Linked DNA regions of Homo sapiens: all the other regions are reported to be linked to region 4. Evidence: microRNA targets listed by miRTarBase, many of them from high-throughput screens and not tested one by one. Region 4 holds a microRNA gene; each other region holds the end of a gene's coding sequence.
The links. Region 4 holds the annotated microRNA hsa-miR-34a-5p (UGGCAGUGUCUUAGCUGGUUGU, at 1,323-1,344, shown strand). A microRNA usually pairs through its seed, bases 2 to 8, with sites in the 3' UTR of a target mRNA and lowers its output. Matches are read on the target gene's strand: a 7mer-m8 pairs with bases 2 to 8, a 7mer-A1 pairs with bases 2 to 7 and ends in A, and an 8mer does both.

Region 1: miRTarBase lists HRK as a target of hsa-miR-34a-5p. The part of its 3' UTR that is shown has no 7-base or 8-base seed match.
Region 2: miRTarBase lists KLHDC10 as a target of hsa-miR-34a-5p. Seed matches in the 3' UTR shown: 8mer at 1,453-1,460.
Region 3: the mRNA of DHX38 is a reported target of hsa-miR-34a-5p. The part of its 3' UTR that is shown has no 7-base or 8-base seed match.
Region 5: miRTarBase lists HIBADH as a target of hsa-miR-34a-5p. The part of its 3' UTR that is shown has no 7-base or 8-base seed match.
Region 6: miRTarBase lists INTS10 as a target of hsa-miR-34a-5p. The part of its 3' UTR that is shown has no 7-base or 8-base seed match.

The regions. Positions count from the first base shown.
Region 1 is chr12:116,878,065-116,881,728 of GRCh38, reverse strand. HRK (harakiri, BCL2 interacting protein) reads left to right here and starts at 288. Exons shown (of 2, transcript NM_003806.4): 1 at 288-753. The coding sequence starts at 422. The coding sequence ends at 697. RefSeq lists an enhancer at 1-95 and silencers at 601-680, 1,559-1,759.
Region 2 is chr7:130,130,465-130,134,124 of GRCh38, reverse strand. It overlaps KLHDC10 (kelch domain containing 10), which reads right to left. Exons shown (of 10, transcript NM_014997.4): 10 at 1-3,588. The coding sequence ends at 3,379. Among named protein-coding and RNA genes, the nearest start is that of LINC03008, 9.4 kb to the left of the region's middle.
Region 3 is chr16:72,111,972-72,115,635 of GRCh38, reverse strand. It overlaps DHX38 (DEAH-box helicase 38), which reads right to left. Exons shown (of 27, transcript NM_014003.4): 27 at 2,724-3,223. The coding sequence ends at 3,139. Among named protein-coding and RNA genes, the nearest start is that of DHX38, 20 kb to the right of the region's middle.
Region 4 is chr1:9,149,415-9,153,078 of GRCh38, reverse strand. It overlaps MIR34A (microRNA 34a), which reads left to right and starts at 1,302; the gene lies at 1,302-1,411. MIR34AHG (MIR34A host gene) reads left to right here. Exons shown (of 2, transcript NR_132742.1): 2 at 1,244-3,664. RefSeq lists a silencer at 1,257-1,493.
Region 5 is chr7:27,523,182-27,526,845 of GRCh38, reverse strand. It overlaps HIBADH (3-hydroxyisobutyrate dehydrogenase), which reads left to right. Exons shown (of 8, transcript NM_152740.4): 8 at 474-1,404. The coding sequence ends at 632. Among named protein-coding and RNA genes, the nearest start is that of TSL, 91 kb to the left of the region's middle.
Region 6 is chr8:19,851,399-19,855,005 of GRCh38, forward strand. It overlaps INTS10 (integrator complex subunit 10), which reads left to right. Exons shown (of 17, transcript NM_018142.4): 17 at 251-669. The coding sequence ends at 407. LOC124901901 (a long non-coding RNA gene) reads left to right here and starts at 2,499. Exons shown (of 2, transcript XR_007060843.1): 1 at 2,499-3,607.

The DNA of each region.
Region 1 (3,664 bases), not on the chromosome of region 4:
ACAACCTTCCCTCGCGCTCCGCGCCTCCGCGGGGGTCCCCCGAGACCCCCAAAGCCCAGGACCTCCGCTGCGGGGAGCCTTCTCGCGCCGCCCCGCGCCGCGCTCCCCGTCTCCCAAACCTCGCGCTCCCTAGCTGCCGGCGCCGCTAGGGTTAAAAGTTACCTCTCGGTTTCTTCTGCCTGCAGCCCCCCCCCCAACCCCCGGGGGCCGGATGATGTAACCCCCCTCCCCGCCCCCCTCCACCATGTGACACTTTAATTAATAATAGCGCCGTCAGCACAACAAACGCACAACACAAGGAGAAACTTGGTGTCCAGGGGAGGCCCCCGGCGGCTGGAGCGCGGCGGCAGCGGGCGCAGAGGCCGGAGGGAGAGGAGGCGAGGGGCGGCCCGAGCGCGGGGCGGGAGCGAGGCCAGCGGTCATGTGCCCGTGCCCCCTGCACCGCGGCCGCGGCCCCCCGGCCGTGTGCGCCTGCAGCGCGGGTCGCCTGGGGCTGCGCTCGTCCGCCGCGCAGCTCACCGCCGCCCGGCTCAAGGCGCTAGGCGACGAGCTGCACCAGCGCACCATGTGGCGGCGCCGCGCGCGGAGCCGGAGGGCGCCGGCGCCCGGCGCGCTCCCCACCTACTGGCCTTGGCTGTGCGCGGCCGCGCAGGTGGCGGCGCTGGCGGCCTGGCTGCTCGGCAGGCGGAACTTGTAGGAACGCGGGGCTTCTTGGTGGGGCCGGAGCCGAGACCCAGCCGGAGCGAGCAACAGGTACGCGAGCGAGCGAGCGAGAGCCGGGGCGCGGCAGCTGGGCACTGGAGACGCTGGGCTGGCCCGGGAGCGGGAGAGTGGCAAGTTTGGCTTTCTTCTTTTCCCTTCTCCTTCTTCCTCCGTTCTCTTCTCTTGCAAGCATCTCCACCTCTCCTCTTCTACCCAGTCCCCAGTCTTCCCTTCCAAGTGTAAGGTCCACCGTTTCTGCCCCCATCTCTGCGAGTCCTTAAGCGCATCTTGCTACTCACTTATAGCTCAGTGGCTTGCGGAGGACTTCAGCCTCCATAATCCCCACCAGCCCCACAAATAAACACACAATGCAAGTAAAAAGTGTGCTTGCTATGGGAATGTAGTTGTAAGCCACGCCAAATACTTAAAATCTATCGCACTTCCAAGAAAGGTCCCCGGTCCCGTTCCAATCCTCTTGCCGTTCCTGAGTCGCCCCCGTCTCCATCACCTTTGCTCCCAACCTCTTGTCCCTAAGTGTCACTTCTCCAATCTCTGATCCCCATTATCTGGCACCCCAAGCGCATCTCGAGACTTCCTCCCCCTCCAGGTTTCTGGCTGGCCCAATCTTTCTTCCCAAGCTCCGCGCATTTGCAATTTTCCTCTGCCCTGCCAACTTCGCTCCTTCTCGAGTGAGGTGTCCTGTTTAAGGAGTTTGGCTTCCTTCTCCCCAGACGGTTGTAGCTGCTACGGGAAGGAGACGCCCTCGGAGTGGGCTGGAATAGGGGGCTTTCAGGGAAACTCCAATGGGAAGCCTTAAGGAAGGAACATTTATTGAGCTCCTTCGGGGTGCTGGGCACTGTTTAGGGAGGTCATGTGTTGAGAACTTAGGACAGGAAGTGGGTACTGAGCACCTAGTGTGGTTGGTATCAGTGGGAGGAAGGTACTAGGCTCTTGGGGTGGGGGGATCATTGTGCCCTAGCTGTGCGCCTGGCACTGTGCTAGGCGCTTTGAGGAAGCACACAGCGTAAGCATCGTCTTACTACTCTGGATCCTGGAGTAGCGAGGAGCGCTGCAGAGAATGAGGGAGAGAGAATCAGGCTGAGCCCACCATAGATGGGTCTAGGGCCGGAAGGTGAAGCTCGAAGGTGACATAGCCAGCCGCCCTTAGGTCCCCGCCCCCGAGCCCCGCCGCGCGCCGCAGACACCCTGGGAAGTTGGAGCGGCGCCTGAAGGCGAGGCCCGAGCGTCTGCGCCCGCGGGGAAAGGCGGCAGCCGGAGCGTGGGGGGTGGCAGCGCCCAGGGAGCTGCGGGGGTGCGCGGGGTGTGAGCCGGGACCGCAGGCGACAGATGTCGCGTGGGCCCGCGCAGCCCGGGCGCTGGCGAAGAGAAATGCGCGCTTCGGGGCGCTCTCTGCCCGGCTCCCGGGCGCCGGGGGTCCCATCCACTTCTCCCTACCTTCTCTCTCTCCTGTTGGAGAGGCCAGGGGCTCCCGCGACTGAAAGGGGCCAGGCTGAGGCTGCCCAATCCCAGGGACAGGAAGAACATTTTGGATGGATCGCGGGGTGCAGAAAAAGGAAGTTGAGCGACAGACGCGAAGCCCAAAGCGTGGAATTTGGGAAGAGGCAGAAAAAAAGTGGGCGAAGAGGAAGAGAAAAAACAAGCGACGAGATGGGGAGGGACAAGAAGTTTGGGGAGGATAGAGAAAAAGAGAAACTGCCTGGAAAACAAGTTGCAAGACAATTGAAAAGTGAATGAGAAGGAAAGAGAGGAAGGTAGTAAAATCAAATAGAACTGTGGAGAGAGGGCTGGGACACGGCTTTCTCTGGTTCTGTCGTCCAGGAGATTGGAAACGCTCTCCCCTTCCGGCACCAGGCGTGCGGGATGTCGGGTGCCCCTCCCGGGAGGCCGAGGACTCCGGGCCGGAGCCTGACTGTGTGTTCCTGTTTGCCGGTGTGTGAGTGTCGGGGTGGGAATGCTCCCGGGGCCTGGAAGGGGAGGCTGCGGGCGGGGCGGGCAGATTGCGCCGCTCTGCGCCGGAGCGCAGGGGAGGAGTTGGGTAACTGGGGCCTGCGCTGCAGGGGAGGGCGGCGGCCAGGAGTTTCGCTGTTTTGAGTCGGTGTTGGGGGGCAGCAGCAGGTTATTGTCTCTGTGGAGTTTATTTCCCCCGCCCCGCCCTCGCCTTCTACCCCAGAGTTACTTCCGTGCTGCGCCCTGACTCGGAGACACCCTCTTCCCACACCTCTGGGTTCTTCTCCTACCTGCCTTGTCCCGCCCGGGCGTCCCCTGCAGCCACACCCTCCAGGGTTCTGCAGCCTCTGGCGCCCTGACCTCAGGATGCCCCGCTCGGCTTCCCAGCAGCACCGCCCCTCATACCCTCGGGACACCCGTAGAATTGCTCACCACCCGCCTTCCTGCGCTCCCAGGCCGGGTTCTCAGTGCTCGGGCTCCCTGCACTGGCCCTGATCAAGTTCTCTCCCTGCAGCCTACATCTGACCTCAGAATACCAGCCGCTCCGGCCTTTCTTGTGCTTTTGATTTAATTTGGGGAAACTCATTTTTTCCCAGCTCTGGTAAGTTAAGTAAAGGGGAAAGAAAAATCACCGGAGGAAGACAGTCTGTTGCGTTCTATGCTGGATATGGGGTGCTCTCCACCTTCCCTACCCTAAAAGAAAAAGGGGAATGTTCACAGCTGTACCTTAGGTGTTTGAGGGAGGCCTGTGCCAGCCATATAGGGTGGGAACTACCACTTTCAATTCCCATAGGTTTAAAGGGTGTGCTCCGCTATATGCAGAATCAATATTTTCAACATACAGGCCAGGCAGGTTGGCTCACGCCTGTAATTCCAGCACTTTGGGAGGCCAAGGCAGGTGGATCACCTGAGGTCAGGAGTTTGAGACCAGCATGGCCAACATGGTGAAACCCCATCTCTACTAAAAATACAAAAATTAGCTGAGCGTGGTGGT
Region 2 (3,660 bases), not on the chromosome of region 4:
TGATTCACTGATTATCTATGGATTTCAATGATCTGTGCTTTACTCTTGCTACTGTGGATAACCAAAGGTCACTGTTAACGTATCTTTTGCTTAAAAATGTTAATATGCTTATTATGCTTTAAAATCTAGCTATTTAAGGGCATGAATGGTTTAAAGCAAATTTTTACATCATGTCATTATGGCCCTGAAAAAAGGAGATTCTGCCAATGGAAAGGGTTTTGTTTAGCCCCAGTTAAGATTTCAACCTATTCTGTGTCAGTTTATAGTTTTTCCAGGATGTGGAAAATATTAAATGAAGAAAGCATCATTTTCTTCATTTAATAAAGTATTACATTCCCAGATAAATTAGTATATACATAGGAGAATGGTTAGTGTTAAATACTAGGTTTTAATTCTCCGTTTAGGAAACTCCTTACAGATGGACTTCCTTGTTCTCCGGCAACAAAATGTAAGACATGCAAACATGAGAGAGTACAAAGATGACAGGGAGAAAAAAAATCTCAACTCTAACAAACCTAAGGAACAATGAGTCTCTAAGAGTTGGAGTAAGAAAACATGGACTTGAAAATCCAGCTTTATCATGACATGAGTTGGCTTAAGCCAGCTGATCACATCTAAAATTCTTGGCATAATTTGAACCTAAAGTAATGAGCTCACTTCCCCAAGATGCAAAAAAGTAGTCTACCTGCTTTATAGTTACACCCTATATATAATCTGTATATATCCATATGTTTCTATATATTGCACTTAAATTTACAGGACTGTAGTAAGACGGCTGGGAGTACCTCAAAGAGGCAGAGAAGCAGCAGGCATAAACTTTCCTAAATCAAGTAAACAGTGTCAGGAATTCCGAGTGCTGGTTATAGGTATACCGAAACGCCTGATGACCCCTATCTAATTTCTAGTTATCTACACTTAGTCATTTACACACAGTCTCATTTGGCATCCAGAACATGTACACATGTGTGGTTCTATAGCACTCAGTGCTGGTCATACCATGTCATTTTTACTAGTGTTATATTAAAAGAAGACACTTTAGACCAAGGATATATACTTTTATGAAAATAAAACACACAGGTCTTCGATGTCAGGCCTCCAAGGTCTACCTCAAAGAAGACTGCCCTCAGAAGGCTTAACAAAGGATGCCAGCAAGTATGGATGGAACCAGACCACATCTCTCTTCAGCTCTCTGGTGTAGCAGGGCTAGAGACTCACTTCTATCCTAAGGACCATGAAAGTCTAAGCACAGAGGCTGAGCATTCAGTCTTTGGTCCCTGTATAAATCCAGGTCAAAAATCCTCTTGCCACCCTGGACAGCCTGGCTTGTTCAATTTAGAATATATTTCCACCAAATATCCAGAGGCCAGGCTGAAGTCATGCAGCAAAGCTCTGTTTTGGACTAATGGAGCTGCTCAGACTGACTTGCTCTGGGAGAGAACGGAGGAGCAAGCCTGGCAGTGGTGGCAGGAGGTTAAGTGCTACACAGACTGGTAATGGCAAGATGTGGGAGGATGGGCCCCTAGAGGAGCTGCTCCTTTTTCTGCCTCTCTCCCACATTCCTCACTCCCCAGAAAGGACCCACGTTCACAGGTGCGTGGTTATTATAAGACTTCCCAGAATACAGGCTCCATGAACTCAACCCATCACAGAGGGGATGGTATGATAAGGCCTAGAAATCAGGAGCATGTCTGGAGGCTACGGTTTTCTCTTTCCCAGAACTGAACACCAGATGGTAGCTTTTTAACCGTAGCTCAAAGGTCATTTTAAATCCACACATAAGCTAAAGAGATCCCTTCTGAGATGAAGGACAAAGAATAACTTTAAAAGCTAGGTGAAAAAAGAGGCACTTAAAGGAAAGATGTGTTCCAACTCTCCCATGCGAGTCTCCTGCTGTGAGTTGGCCCCGGGAGGACCAGCGCTGCCCCTTGCACGCCTTCAGCACCTTGAGTACACCTGCGGCTTACACATGCGCATGGTGAGCCTCTTGCTCAGCTCCCCTAGCAGCCAGATGGCAAAGCGAGTGAAAATTTATGTCATTCTTTTTAGAATTAAAAAAAAAACAAATCAAACAAACCAGAACTAAAATTTCACACACACAAAATGAATGCTACTCAGTTTCATTCCTTCCTCATGCTAGTTTTTAAATGATACTTGGTTCTTCAGGAAGGATGACCTGTGGCTTTACCCCCAAGACCTTGTATCCAATTACTAGACAATTATTCACAGCACCATGCACATTAAAGCAGACGGAAAAGAAGGCAACAAGCTAAGGGAAAAATCAAGGACCAACTGCCTGAGAAAATGGCAGGTACCTGGCCCAGAGATTAGAAAAGAAACAAGTTCTCAAAAGGAAATGGCCAAGATGATAGCCAAAGACCACAGCCCGAGTGGAAGCCAAGTTAACAAGCCCAGAGGATGCAGGTTTTCTCTGCCTGGCTCTTCTCTGGCCTCCCTCGGGAGCTTGTGTTCATGTTACATGGCATTTACACCACATACTTAGGGTCTACAATTCCCCATGAAGAAGTCAAAGAGATATTTAAAACCATTAATAAGCATAAGAGAGTTTCAAAACTGCCAGAATGAAGAACTTTGGCCACCACAAGTTTTTCCGTTTGAAACATTCTTGGTGCCATAATTTCTAAGAGCAACAACAAAGAGCACGACCACGACACACACGTAAGTCTTTTGACAAACCAACTCTAACCACTGCTGGCACCATGAGGATGAGAAAGAAATCACTAACCAAGAGTTGCTGGGCTGCTTAACCTTCCTTCAAAGCCAAAGGGTAGGTTTGAGTTATCTGTGCAACAAGATGGCAAGCACTGCTGCCATCAGACCCAGCTACTACTCAGTTAGACACATCTTGAAAACACTAAGTTAAACATCTAGGTTTAAGTATAACCTGCAAGATTCCCAAGGTTAGCCTTCTCAGCTTCCCCTAAATTTGTGGTTGTTGCTGTTGCTAGATGTAAAAATTTTTTAATTTCATTTTTCTTTATGTTGATGATGTTTTAATTTCTAGAATATTGTATGACATGGAACTATTCAGAATTCCTTTAAAAAGGAATCTGTCTTGATTAATAACATTATTAAGGTACTTTCAGGCTTTCCCTTAACTCCATCGAGAAGGAAGAGGGAGTATGTGAGTACATGTGCATGTAATGGGTCAGGAGGAACAGAAGCAAAGAAGGAAGCACGTGGGAAAGTGAGATGTCCATAAACTGAAAAACCAATTTACAGAAAGGCATCTGATGTATTTTCTAAATAAGGCCTTGATCAGGGTAACCAATCCTCTTTGTAGCACATTCTACACTGCCCATAAATAAAGGAGTCTCTTTAAATTAACATTTCCAGTATCAATGAACAGTCCAGAAATCCTCATTTCAAGCGTTCGATGAGTCCCTGTGTGAGTCCAAGGTGCAGAAGTTGTGTTCGGGAGAGGTTTGCAAGGTTAGGGAAGGCCGCAAGCAGCTTCTCCCATGCCAGTTCCAGCAGGCTAGGTACCACCAGCCAGATCTTAAACAATGACCCAGTCCGTTTGTTTTCATGGATGTTCACCACTCCTCCATGAATGTACATGCAACCAGCCTATGAGTAGTCAAAAGAGGACAAATTCAAACGGGAGAGAAACATACAAGGCTGAAGACTCAGTGGGGAAAA
Region 3 (3,664 bases), not on the chromosome of region 4:
AAAAAAAAAAAAAGAAATCGTTCTCAACATCGGCTTTGGCCAAGAATTTTTGGCTAAGTCAGCAAAAACAATTGCAACGAAAACAAAAATTGCTAGGAGGGACCTAATAAACTAAAGCGCTTCTACACAGCAAAAGAAACTATCAGCAGAATAAACAACCTACAGAGTGGGAGAAAACAGTCACAAACTACACAGCTGACAAAGGCCTAATATCTAGAATCTATAAGGAACTTAAACAAATCAAGCAAAAAACAAATAACCCCATTAAAAAAATGGGCAAAGGACATGAACAGACACTTCTCAAAAGAAGACATACAAGCAGCCAACAAACATATGAAAAAATGCTCATGATCACTAATCACCAGAGAAATGCAAATCAAAACCACAATGAAATACTATCTCACACCAGTCAGAATGGTTATTACTAAAAAGTCAAAAAATAACAGATGCCGGCAAGGCTGGTGAGAAAAGGCGACACTTATATACTGCTGGTGAGAATGTAAATTAGTCCAGCCACTGTGAACAAAGGTTTGAAGGTTTCTCAAAGAACTTAAAATCGACCTACCATTTGACCCAGCAATCCCATGAGTGGGCGTATACCCAAAGGAAAATAAATCATTCTACCAAAAAGACACATGCACTCGCATGTTCATCGCTGCACTATTCACAATAGCAAAGACATGGAATCAACCTAGGTGCCCAGCAATGGTGGACTGGATAAAGGAAATGTACATACACACCATGGGGTACTACACAGCTATAGAAAAGAATGAAATCATGTCCCTTGCAACAACATGGATGCAGCTGGAGGCCATAATCCTAAGCTAATTCTTGCAGGAACAGAAAATCAAATACTACTTCTTCTCACTTATAAGTGGGAGCTAAACATTGAGCACACAGGGACATAAATATAGGAACAATAAACACTGTGGACTACTTGGTTGGGAGGAATAGAGAGAGGGAAATGGGTTGAAAACATACCTGTTGGGTACTATGCTTACTACCTCGGTGATGGGATCCATACCCCAAACCTACCACATCACACAGTATACCCATATAATGAACCTGCACATGTACCCTCAGTATCTAAAATAAAAGTTGAAATTTAAAAATTTTTAAAAAGTTACTAATGCAAAAAAAAAAAAGCGGGGGGGAAGAGGACTTGAGACATTTCTCCAAAGAAGATAAACAAATGACCAATAATAAGCACATGAAAAGATGCTCAACACCACTAAATACTAGGGAAATGCAAATCAAAACTGCAATGAGATACCAGCCATTAGGATGGTTACACTAAAAAAATACAGACAATAACAAGGGTCAGCCAGACTCAGGAGTCCACAACGGGGCCATGGTGCTAGAGACCATGTCATAGGTATGCTTTTGTACCTCTAGAAAAACAATCAGTTGCCATCTGAAGAAAAGACAGTGAGAATCAGAATATTAAAGCTCGAAGGAACTTTAAGGAAGATCGGAATGGAAAGGATCTGTAATTTAAAAAAACACTGGAAACACAGGAAGAGACAGAGCCTTGAGCAGAAGCTCCAGTACCGTGGCAAATTCAGGGGGAGCTGCTGTGGGCAGGGGACCCCTCCATTCCTCTTGTAGCACCCACATGTACCAAGTATCCTTTACCAGGTGTTCCTTGCTTGTAAATACGATGGTTGAGTTGGACCCATTGTTTTAATAGCCTCTCTGACCTTATTTTTTTATCTAAGGGACTTAGTGAGTTTGTGACCAAGGTCACAGCTTATTAATAATAACTGTTAAGTAGAACCTCAATCTTTTTCCTACTCCATTGCCTGATTCTGTAAATAGGTCACACATCAGCCAACTTCTAGTCCTCCAACCTAGGGCCAAGATTAGAATGCTTCCTAGGCAAAGTGCTGGCAGCCCTCTCTTCACTACAGAGCCCTGAGAAGCCCATTTCCACCTGCATTCCCCCAAGGGGGCTAGAGGGAAGAATGGAGGCAGAGGTGGTAGCTGGTGCTGGCTGGCAAAGCTAGGCTTCTGAGCTCACCCACAAAATTGACTTACATTTTAACATTTATTGAGTTATAAAACATGGAAAGGCAAATCCCAGGAACAGAGGGAGAAAGGGATCAGAACAGCACAGCAGGCCACGCACCACAGGGCTCACGCCGGCACTGGCCTGGTATCAAGGTGCTTCCGAGCCCCAATCCTGTCTGTGACTCAACCCCAACACAGAACCTGCCAACCAGCACACCTGGCAGAAGCCCAGCCTGGAGGAATCACAACATATACACCATGGTTAGTGGAAAGGGCCAAACACCCAAAAAGCCACCTCAGCAGACTTAAGAGACTGCTTAAAAAGAGAAAAGACTGGTGATTCTGGTGTAAGGGTCACCTTTTACGTGAAAATCAATAAGCAACATTTTACACTGTTTTTCAGTCAATGGACAACCCTTACCCTCTGCCATCCAGAGCAATCACATGGACCTCTTTCAAGCAGCCAAACCACCCCAGGGAAGGCTGGGGTGGACTCCTGCGCACTTCCCTCCCATGACCTGGCCATCAAGGCAGACCTGCCAGTGCCCCCCAGCCTCAGGAGCAGCTGGGCACCCTCAGAGCTTGGTCTGCCTTGTGCAGAAATAAGGGCAGAGTTCCAGGACGACCCATGCAAAGGAAGTCAGGGCAGGCTTCTGCACCCCCCACCTTTATTACATGATTTAAGAGGGTGAAGGAAAAAGTCAGACATGCAGTCATGTTTTACAAATAATAAATTTATTTCCAAATCCTGAATTATAACCAAATTACAATTCCCTTTAGGTCTTTTTTGCTGCTTTACACAAGGATTAAAAAAGACAGCCACAGCCAAGTCACGCATACACCAAGTGTCCTGGGCCAGTTTTAGATGCGATGGGTCCAGCCACCTCCCGCTGCCCCGGCAGCACCTCGGATACTCTGCAGCCCCGCTCCCGCCATGCCGTGCTCCTGCATGGAAGAACTCCACCTCCTCTGCCAGAGAGTCTGGTCCAGCAGGAACTGCCCTGGGGGGCCGTGATATGCACAGATGAAAGTCCTCAGATGAAAGGGCTTTGTCCGCAGCCTCAGGGCTCCCGCCAGAAGGCTGAGGACCCAATACCTGCTGCCATCCTCTCTGGGGACAGCCTCAGCTCACAGACCAAAGCGGGCTGGCGTGCGGCGAGGGGTCATGGGCTCCCCTTGCTCTTTCCGGCCTGGAGTGTAGATCTTCGTAGACCTGGAGACACAGCAGGAGAGATCAGGAAACACCGTGCCCTCACCCACAGCCAGGAGGGCAGGAGGATGCAGAGCCCCAGGACTTACTGTTCCTAACCCATGGTGGGGAGCTCTGGGCCGAGGGATCTCCTCCCCGGCACATTCTCACTCCTCTGCCGTCCCCATGTTCGACTGGCGATGTAATCAAGGAAGCTCACTCATTCCGATATGCTTTAGATCGGATTTTAACAACTCCTCCCACAGTCCCTAGGGGAGCTACAAAAGCAGCTTCCCTCCACCTCACGTGCGCCACTCCAACTGTGTAGCAGCCTGCCTTTGTCCCCAGTGCCTAGGAGCCAACTCTAAACCCTTGGAATTTCCCAAGTGACTGGAGTGTCTGCTATTCATGGGGGCCCCTCAGCCCTCGTTTGAGAGATTATGCTAATGAGGTGACTCTTGGTGA
Region 4 (3,664 bases):
CGTGGTGGTCCGTATCCAAAGTCACTAGATCTTGGCCTGGCATAGTGGTTCATGCCTATAACCCCAGTATTTTGGGAGGCCGAGGCGGAAGGATCACTTGAGCCCAGGAGTTTGAGACCATCCTGGGCAACATGGCAAGAACCCATCTCTATAAAAACAACAACAACAAAACAACAAGAAGTCAGTAGATCTTAAAGCACTAGATCTTAAACCCTGTGATGGGCAATTTCCTTGTCAATTTAGCGAGGCTGTGATACCCATGATTCAACCAAACGCTTGCCTGGGTGCTACTGTGAGGTGCGTTGTACATGTGGTCAGCACTGATGATCACTGGCTGTAAGTCAAAGGTTCTCCTCTGCGAGGTGGGTGGGCCTCATGCAATCGGTTGAAAGGCCTCAAGAGCAGAACCGAGGTTTCCCTGAAGAAGAAGAAATCCTGCCTGGGGACTGCAGTGTCAGCTCCTCCGGGGAGCTTCCGGCCTGCTGGCCTGCCCTCTGGATTTCAGACTTGCCTAGCCAGCCCCCACAATCACGTAAGCCGATTCCTTGAAATAAACTTAATCTATATCTCCTTCTGGTTCTGATTCTCTGGCAGAACTCTGATCCTCTCCCTAAACGGTGCCCGGGACGGGGGAGGAGTTGGCGCTACTTCATTGCTTCCCTTTCACGCAGACATGCTGACTTTTCAACCACTGTCCTTTTCGAATTTTTTCTCTTCCAGGGAAGTGCTGACTCTTTTTCTCCTTGTCAATTAGTCCTTTTGGAATCTGTTACTGGTCTCAGCCTTCTCCTCCATCCTCTCTCTTTCATTATTTTTATTTTCATTTTGTAGAGACAGTTGCTGAAGGTGGTGGTCTGGCTATGTTAACCAGGCTGGTTTTGAACTTCTCGCCTCAAGTGATCCTCCTGTCTTGGCCTCCAAAATTGCTGGGATTACAGGTGTGAGCCATCACCCAATTTTTATTTTTAGAGACGGGGTCTCACCCTGTCACCCAGACTGGCGCAATCACAGCTCCCTGCAGCCTCAACCCCTGGGCTCAAGCGATCCTCCTGCCCTGGCCTCTCCAGTAGCTAGGACTACAGGCACGCATGTCACCATGCCTGGCTAATTTTTAAAATTTTTTTGTAGAGATGGAGTCTTGCTAGTTGCCTGGGCTGGTCTTGAACTCCTGGCCTGAAGCGATCCTCCCACCTCGGCCTCCTGCATCCTTTCTTTCCTCCCCACATTTCCTTCTTATCAACAGGTGCTGGGGAGAGGCAGGACAGGCCTGTCCCCCGAGTCCCCTCCGGATGCCGTGGACCGGCCAGCTGTGAGTGTTTCTTTGGCAGTGTCTTAGCTGGTTGTTGTGAGCAATAGTAAGGAAGCAATCAGCAAGTATACTGCCCTAGAAGTGCTGCACGTTGTGGGGCCCAAGAGGGAAGATGAAGCGAGAGATGCCCAGACCAGTGGGAGACGCCAGGACTTCGGAAGCTCTTCTGCGCCACGGTGGGTGGTGAGGGCGGCTGGGAAAGTGAGCTCCAGGGCCCCAGGAGCAGCCTGCTCGTGGGTGCGGAAGGAAAAAGGCACAGGGGCTTGGTGTGGGCGGCTTTTGGCTGGGAGAAGTTTGCACGTAGGGAGAATAGTAGCCAGTGTTTGCAGAGCACTTACTATGCAGGAAGGCCTGTCCTAAGTATTGTAAGTGTATTACATCATGTACAAGTGTCTGTGATTAACCCCGTCTTGCAGAGAAGGAAACAAAAGTACAAACAGAAAATGTAACTAAGCATGCAATTAATAAAAAGGGACCAGGTTTTGAACGCGAGCAATCTGGCTCAAGAATCTGCGCCCAACCACCGGCTCCTGTTCTTAGAGATGAACGTGGAGTCCTGGAGACTGCTCAACATTGTGACTTGACTGTGAGCGTACGCGCTCCCTGTCCCCAGGAGACAGATTTCCAGTGCAATCATAGAAAGTGCCTGTGTGGGCTTCGGGAGATGTGTCTGCCTTGGGGAGAATTTTCCTTTTCAGCTAGAGCCAGGCCCAGGATGTTGACGTCAGTGAGACGCTGGTGACGTTCTCTGCTCCAGTGGCTGATGAGAAAAGTTCCTCCAAGCCAGCTCAGTTGAGAAGAATTAAGTTCTCTGGGTCCCACTGGCTTCACCTACAGATGCCAACTTTGAGGCCAGTGAACTGTGAGGCCAGCTGGGCTGATTGCCATGGCAACAGGAATTGGACCAAAGTCACCGGAGGATGGAGAGGGAAGACACAGTGGTGGCTTCCCCAGGTCTTGGACCACAAGGCACAGCCGTGGCCTCCAGGAACCCTGAGATAACCCGTTAGTGGGTCCTGCACTCCAACAGAGCTCATGCAATCAGCCTCTGGTCCTCACCCTCCTCCCATTGGTGTCGTTGTGCTCTCTAACATTGACATTGAGCAGTGAGTGCTCCAGATCTTGTTCCACTGATTTTTTCCACTGTTCTCCAGTCTAGCACTTTCTGAAATTCATCCAAGCCTAAGAGGTGACGCCAAACGTAAGTGTCTTACACCTCGGACCCCATGGACTAAGACAAGCCTCTGGGGTCCATGTGGCACCAAGGATGGGGCCTTCTAGTACCTTTCACACAGGCCAGGGACAGCACCTGCTGCGACCCCCACCCCCAGCCTCTGCTGCTTCTCCCGTTGCCCTTCCAGCCACTGCCCTGGGCACCTCCCCTGCTCCCGCCTCCCTGCCTGGGCCCATCTTTCTTTGCACCTCACCAATTGCGGGGCTTCCTAGTGCTGGAGGGGAAGGGAGCCTGCTTCCATTCTCACCACTCTGAAAGAAGACCCTGCAGAGAGGTTTTCTGGAATTTGGAGCCTAACCTTGGCCTTGACACAGTCCAGATGAGAAGGCCGTCCCCCAGTTAAGCCAGCCCTCCCTCCCTCTCAATGCTGGAGAGGAAACCAGGCAGCTGGTTGCTTCAGCAAACCCCCTCCCTATGGGAATTGTCCTTTTCTTCCTCAAATAGACTGGAGTGCAGAGGACTTGCTTCAGAGAGAGCCCCTTTGTAACGCACATTGCACGGGCCGTGCCCCATGCCCACTCTGCCACAAACTCCCCTCAGCTGCCCAGCCCCGTGGAGCCAGGCGTGGGCTGAAGTGGGGCCAATGAAATGCCTGGAATGCCAGCCGCAGTGACAGGCCAGCACTCAGATGCCTCTCGGGAGTTCTGACCGAAGCAGCACTGAGGACTGCTTCAGAGCAGAAGTCTACGCCATTTTCCCCAGTTCTAGGCAGAAGTAAAGAATGTCTCTACCTTCTCCCAACCAGCAATTGATTCAGAGTCCTGAGCTTTTAAATTAAAGGGACCCCTCTGTTGCTTTATGCAGTAGCCAGCTTATTCATTTGAGTTCAGGTGAAATCATTTTCAAGTAACCTCTTCCTATCCAGCTTTACTTTTAGTTATGCTGACATAAAAACAATAAAAATTGTCCTCCTCAGAGTTCACCTGTAAAAGTTCCTGGATAATTAGTAAGGAAACAGAAAGAGCAGATAGTTGTTGCTTCAGATAAAAGTGATGTCTGGGTTGGGCACGGTGGCGCATGCCTGTAATCCCAGCACTTGGGGAGGCCCAGGTGGATGGATCCCTTGAGCTCAGGAGTTTCAGACCAGCCTGGGCAACATCTCTACAAAAAATACAAAAATT
Region 5 (3,664 bases), not on the chromosome of region 4:
GTGGGCTGTGGCTGTTTTGCTCATCATTTTATCCCAGCTTCTGGCACATTGTCAGCACACTTCAAATATTTATTGGATGAAGTAATATTTGCAACTGTATTTCCTGTTTTGCAGTTTTATTTCTCCTTGTTTTCATTTAAGAATTTTTTAAAAAAAATTTATGTCTTAAAGATTTCCACAGATAAGATTACACAGGGAAATTTTTTTTCTTCAAATCTGTGGAACAAAACAAACAGGTATTGTGGAAGGTGGAAAAATCGAAGAGACACTCAGAAATCAAGGTTTCTGTCTGGAGCAATTTTGCAGTTATATGAAAGCGCTTATTTAAAAATGTTAACTTACCATAGTATTTATAAGTATCTTATTTTTTCAGATTACATTTTTCCTTCTTTCAAACCAAAACATAAGGAACCACAGTTCCAAAGAGCCTTTACCACCAGTCTCAGCGTGTTCTCTCCTCCTGTTTGATTTAGGATCTGGGATTGGCACAAGACTCTGCTACCAGCACAAAGAGCCCAATCCTTCTTGGCAGTCTGGCCCATCAGATCTACAGGATGATGTGTGCAAAGGGCTACTCAAAGAAAGACTTCTCATCCGTGTTCCAGTTCCTACGAGAGGAGGAGACCTTCTGAGTGTGCCCTTTGGCCACGGACACTGTTGGGAACCAAACTCTGTCTTGGAGCCTCCTTTTAGCTCACTCCACAAGTAAATGGATTTAATCAAAGGTCACCTATCTGCTTTTGATTGTCTAGGTCACAGTAATCCCTAGGATTTTTCACCGCTTATTCTTTTTGTCTTTTTAACAAACATATTATCCGAATTTTTTTTCTGCAAGCCACTGATAGTCTCTGCTAACTAGCTTAATTGACCTTTTTACAAAGTTTGATCCCCAAGCATCCTCAACTAAATCATTGAATACTTCAATCAGGATATTATCTGCTTTACTTTACAAATAAAACCAAATCTTTTGTCAACAGGATGAAACCCATCTTAAAGGAAAGAAAAGGAATTGGTGTGAAGAGAGAAGTTAGAGAAGGGAAATGCAGTGAATTACTATCTGTGTCCATCAGGAAGTTTGTCCTGTTAACCAAATGGTTACTGCACTACCAGGGTTACTGGTTTATTTTCCAGGGAGCTGATAAAGCAGGAGAACTGTTGCTGCATGTTTTCTATTTGGACTCCGTCACAATATGGTAGGATATCCCTCACCAACTCCCGACACTCAGCAGACTTGTTTTTATATTTTTTTCTTTCTTGTTCATTCTTACTACGTATTTTTTGACTTAAGAATGACATCTTTAGATGCATTTCAGAGCCAATGATGATATTTGCTTTAGATAATTATTATATTATTATAAATATAGCCATATTATTTTGAATTCAAATAAATTTCTATACTGGTAATACTTTCTTGGTGTTTTTGTTTCTTCCCCATCATTTGGTGAACTAATGTTCTGACAAACTGATGTTCACACTAATGGGGAAAGGATGGGAATAAAGAGAAAGGAGGGGAGGTCAAAAGGAACAAAGCTCTGAGTTGGCCAGTGGCAAGCTAGTGTTTTGCTGCTTTACCTGAATCCTTATTGAGTATTCGTTTGAATGTTTTTTAGGTCATCAGTTCTCTAGGAATTCAGCCAGCATTAAGTGTAACATGCCCCAATATGGAGCACAGTCACCACTTTTCCCACCTCAGCCTCTAGAAACATTCCAGGTAATAGACCTAGACACCAAATTTGGCAGAAGTATTACTACTTTCATCATTTTACTGGTGATAAAAAATTCCAGGCACTGTTATAAGTGCTGGGGATACAGTGATGAACAAGACACAAGATTTCTGCCCTTGCAGAGCATAAGTTCTGGTGTCTCATGTGTTTGTGACAGACAAGAAATATGTATTTTTCAGATAAGAAGAACTAAAAAGAAAAAGCAGGATAACGGGGATGGATAGGGAGTGCCAGGGGTATTTTCTTAGGGTGATAAGGAAAGTTCTCCCCAATAAGGTGTCAATTGAGCAGAGGTAAGGGAGTAAGCAATGCAGGTATCTGAGGAACAAACATTCCAGGCAAAGGGGACAGAAAGTACCAAGGCCCTGAGGTAGGACAGTACTGAATATGAGGAATAACAGGGAGGCTATAAGTGAAGTGGCACAGAATGAGGGTGGCCAGATCATATGGGGCCTTGCAGGGTATGTTAGGACACTGGCTTTTATTCTGAGCAAAATGGGCAATGTATCAGTTAGCTTTTGCTGGATAACAAATCACCCCAAAATTTAGTGGCTTAAAACAACAAACATGTATTGTTTTTCAAGATTCTGTGGGTTGGCCATATTATTATTCTGGCCTAGACCAGCTCATCTGCAGCTAGAGTGTCTAGTTTGGCTTTACTCAGCTGGGACAGCTGGAATGGTTGGGGCTTCTCTCCATGTTTTCATGCATTCTCCAGGAGGCTGGTATGAATTTGTTCACATAGTGGTGGAAGCATCCCAGCAGCAGCATAGGACAAGCCCTGACTTTCTAAGCCTCTGCTTGCTTCATGTTTGTACTTTCCCCTTGGCCACAGCAAATGTCATAGCCAAGCCCAGAATCAGCATATGTGGGGTCTGCATAAGAGTGTGGACACAAAGAGGGGCATTATGGTGGCCTTTTTGCAAACAGCCTATCACAAGCAGCCTGTGAAACTTTTTCACCAGATTGATGTGATCTGACCTACTTTTTTAAAGGGATCACTCTGGATGCTGTGTGGAGAAGAGTCTGTAGGAGCAAGGCTGGAAACAAGGAGACCAATTCGGAGGCAATAGTAATAACCCAGTTGAGAGGTGGTAGCTGGGACCAGAATGTTAAAATGATGGAGGAGGCAAGAAGTGGTTAGATTCTGAACCTAGAAAACAGAGCCACTAACTGATGGATGGCATGAGAGAGAAAGTAGGGAGTCAGGGATAATCCCACTGTCAGTGGCCTGAGAAAGCAGAAGAAAGAAGTTGCCATTTCCTATATGGGGAAGATCATGGGGGGAAGATTTGGGGAGGATTGTAGGAAGTTTAGGAGAAAAAAATCAGAGATTTATATGAGATGCCTTAATAGACATCTAAGTAAAGAAGAACAACAGTCCAAGGACTGAGCCCTGTGTTACTGTAACTTTAGTGGTTAGGAAAATGAGGGGGGACAAGCAAATGAGACTGAAGCAGAGAGATCAGTAAAGTAGGGGAAAAACATGGGAGCAGTGTCCCAGGAGCCAAATGAAAACAGTATTTTAAGGAGGGAATGATGATCTGTGAGTTGAGTAATAGGGCTGAGAATCATTTGGATTTGGCAAAAGAGCTATCACTGGTGACTTTTTCAAGAGTTTTGGTGGAGTCTTGGAAATGAGAGTTGGATTGAGAGTGGGAGAGGAATTGGAAACAGTAAGTATAGAGAATTCTTGAAGAGCTTTGCTGCAGAGGAAAACAGACAAATGGGATAGACATTGGCAGCAAATAAGGGACCAGGAGGAGTTTTATTATATTTTTAAAATAGGAAATGTTATGGGATTATACGGATGGAAGTGGAATGATCCAGTAACGAGGGGAAGTAATGGCACAACAGAGAGGCTACTTGCTAAATGCTGCCTTTCGAGTAGTTGAGAGGGAAGGGGTTTAACTGTGGCCAAATCTCTGCAAATTAAAGGA
Region 6 (3,607 bases), not on the chromosome of region 4:
ATTTTACTGAACAATTAAATGTTTGAAGTAACCTTTTATAGAGTGAGAAAGATGTCTGTCTAGTTTTAAGTCTTTCTGAAGAGAAATGGGCTGGAATGTTTGGTTGGTTGCAGCTATTCTTGTGTTCTTTTTAAAATATCTGAAATTATACTTAGATATGGGGCAGGCTTTATTCCTACCCAAGTAGCAGCGATCAGCGATGCTGGTGCTAACCCCTGGTCTTTGTCTGTTTCCCTATTGCTGACCTCAGGCACCACACTGTAACTCGAGGCATCACCAAAGGCGTGAAGGAGGACTTTCGCCTGGCCATGGAGCGCCAGGTCTCCCGCTGTGGAGAGAATCTGATGGTGGTTCTGCACAGGTTCTGCATTAATGAGAAGATCTTGCTCCTTCAGACTCTGACCTGAGTGGAGACCTTTCCACCAGACACAGCTCGGGCCTGTGTAATTGTAGGAGAAGACACTCAGCAGTGATTGCCATGGCACAGAGCCGTGGTCATTGTTGCTGTTACAAAGAAGAAAACCATCTGAGTTCTAACTCCTTGGTTGCTTAAAAGTAGTTCCCAAGAGTCTGAGAAGCTATTTCTATTTTTAAGAGTCATTTTTTGTAATTTTTGTAAAACAAAAGTACCAATCTGTTTTGTAAATAAAAATCATCCTAAAATTTGAAGTTTTTAAAAATTTAATTCTTATGAGTTTTTGAACAGGGGTGCATTTTTCTTCTTTTCTAAGCATATAGCAAGGGGGAAAATCCAGCATAATTGAATTGAGTAATGAATTTTACTAATATAGATACTTACTTAAAAGACATATGTCTTCCATGACCTTAAGATTTTATTTTCCATAGTTAGGCTTTGGTCGGTATTGCATATCAACATAATATTAGACGTTTTCATTCAGGTGATCTCTTTTTTAGAAACAAGGTCTCACTCTACACCCAGGTTAGAGTGCAGTGGCACGATCATAACTCACTGCAGCCTCAAACTCCTGGCCTCAAGCAATCCTCCTGCCTCCAACCTCCCAAGTAGCTGGGACTACAAGTATACACCACCATGCTCAGCTATTTTTTTTTAATTTTATGTAGAGACAGGGTCTCACTATGTTACTCAGGTGGGTCTCAAACATCTGGCCTCCAGCAATCCCACCTCAGCCTCCCAAAGTGTTGGTATAACAGGCATGAGCCACCATACCTGGCCTCATTCGGGAAGTTTTAACACCAAAAACATTTATGTAAAAATGAATTTGAGCCTGACCTCTCCCACTGATGGTCCCCTGAAGGAGAGGTGCTCAGGGCTGCTGAAAAGCCCAGGACAGGAAGTGGAGGTGAGAGGCAAGGTGTGGCAGAGCAGCCTCCCCATTGCTGTCTGGCTCCAGGAAGTCCCTGCTGCTGTGCCAGGGTGGCCCAGTGGTTTCTACCCAGGGGCTTTGGAGCCAGGTGGCCTTGTGTGGCTTTGCATCCTGGCTTTGCCCTGCCCTTACTTGCTATGTGACCGTGGACAAGGTAACTTCTGTGTGCCTCAAGCTCTTTGTCTGAAAACGGAGCTGAGTGGTCCTCCCCTTGCTGGTTATTGGGAGGATGAAATGTTGCTCCACGTGAAATGCTTGGGAGAGGGCCTTGAGTGTAGTTAGTGCTGGCCAACATTAGCTATTAGGCTAATTTTTTTTTTTAATTAGGCTAATTTTATTTTCCTTTTGCTCTTCATGAAATTATACAGAAGACAAACATCAATAAAATTTGTTTCAAGGGAGTATTTAAGAATGAAAGAGCTAAGAAGTTTTGCAGTTACTCTGCATAAAAGGTCTTAGAAATCTTTTCTAAATAAAGATCCTTTTTATAGCTATATTAAAATCAATAAGATGGTTTAAATAAGAGACATCTGATCTCAAAAATATCAACTAGCTTGTTTTGCAGTGTTTATTAGTGTAATATGAGTTTATTACAAATATATAAGCTATCCTTTTTTTAGTGATGGGATGTGCTGCCACCTAAAAGCTCCCAAATTAAACACTCTCACCTTTAGGTTTTCTAACACTATTAGGGTTCTTCAGAGGGACCGAACTATTGGATAGATGTATATATGAAAGGGAGTTTGTTAAGGAGAATTAGCTGACATGATCAGAAGGTGAAGCTCCACAGCAGGCCGTCTGCGAGCCAAGGAAGAAGGAAGCCCACAGTGGCTCAGTCCAAGTCCAAAAGCCTCAAAAGCAGGGAGGCCAACAGTGCATCCTTCAGTCTGTGGCCAAAGGCCCGAGAGCCCATGACCAACCACTGGTGTAAGTCCAAGAGTCCAAAGGCCAAAGAACCTGGAGTCTGATGTCCAAAGGCAGGAAGCATCCAGCACGGGAGAAAGATGAAAGCCAGAAGACTCAGCAAGTCAGCTTATCCCACCTTCCGCCTACTTTGTTCTACCCTCGCTGGTGTCTACCCAGCTTGAGGGTGGGTCTTTCTCTCCCGATCCATTGACTCAAATGTTAATCTCCTCTGGCAAAAGCCTCACAGACACACCCAGAAACAATACCAGCTATCTAGGCATCCTTCAATGCAATCAAGTTGACACCTAATATTAACCATCACGAACAGCTTCCTCAGCTCAGTGTTTCAGGAGCAGTGCACATCACAACAAGACTTTCTAATACCCCAAAATGTAGGTACTAGCTAAAAGAGGATTAACCATCTTTTTTAAAATTCAGTGGTGCCACTTCTCTGTGAAGAGGCTGCAGGGAAAGGGCCACAGAATAAAATGGAAACTCAGACTGAATTTGCAGAAAAAGAAGGAGCTGGGAGAAAACTGCAGACCTCTCAGCACATAATGGCTCCATCCAAATCGCTGCACTAAGAGACCTGACCAAACTCTAGCTTGGCTACCAGCAGCTTAAGGCCATGACCCCAGTCCCGCTTAAAATGCCTGCCTGAGAAAGCTCCATGCTACCAAAATTTATTCCAGACCAAACCAGGTGATAGGCAGATAGGCCCCTGGACTCTCGCTTAGAATAGTTACTTTAAAAAGGTTGCAATTACACATCCTTTGCCCTTTGAGATGCAAAGTGACCCCCCAGAGCTGTTTTCTCAAGAACCCAAGAGCTGGCTTTTTGAAATCCATTCAGGGAATCAACTCTTGCTCCCAGTCCCTGTGACAGGGAACATTTGAGCTGGGTTTGGACCACTGTAACATTTAGACTCCTACAGGAGATGTACTGTTGCCATGGCAATCCTGCTCCCTAACAAAGGAACTGCAGGCTCAGGCTTTTGGTGTCTGCTTGTCTGAGTAACGAATGAGGCAAAGCTACCATCGGGATGACCTTAAGGCAGGCAGAAGATACAGCGGTGCATAGGAGGCTTGACTGACCTTGGATATCTCGTCCCAGACATTCCCCTCACCTGGCAGCGGGGTGCACCCTGCGTGCACAGCATCCTCCTCCTACGCTTAGGTCCATCTGGATGTAGAGTCCCTCCTGGGAAAAGGGGAACTGCCAGAAAGAGACACCTGCCCCTCACTCGTCACCAAATGCAGGTTCCTGGGGAAAATGATGCTAGTAAGACCTGCCTCTGGGTTTCCTAAGCAGCAGAACAGCTCCCTCGCTGCAATCCATTGAAAGTCAGTCCTGGA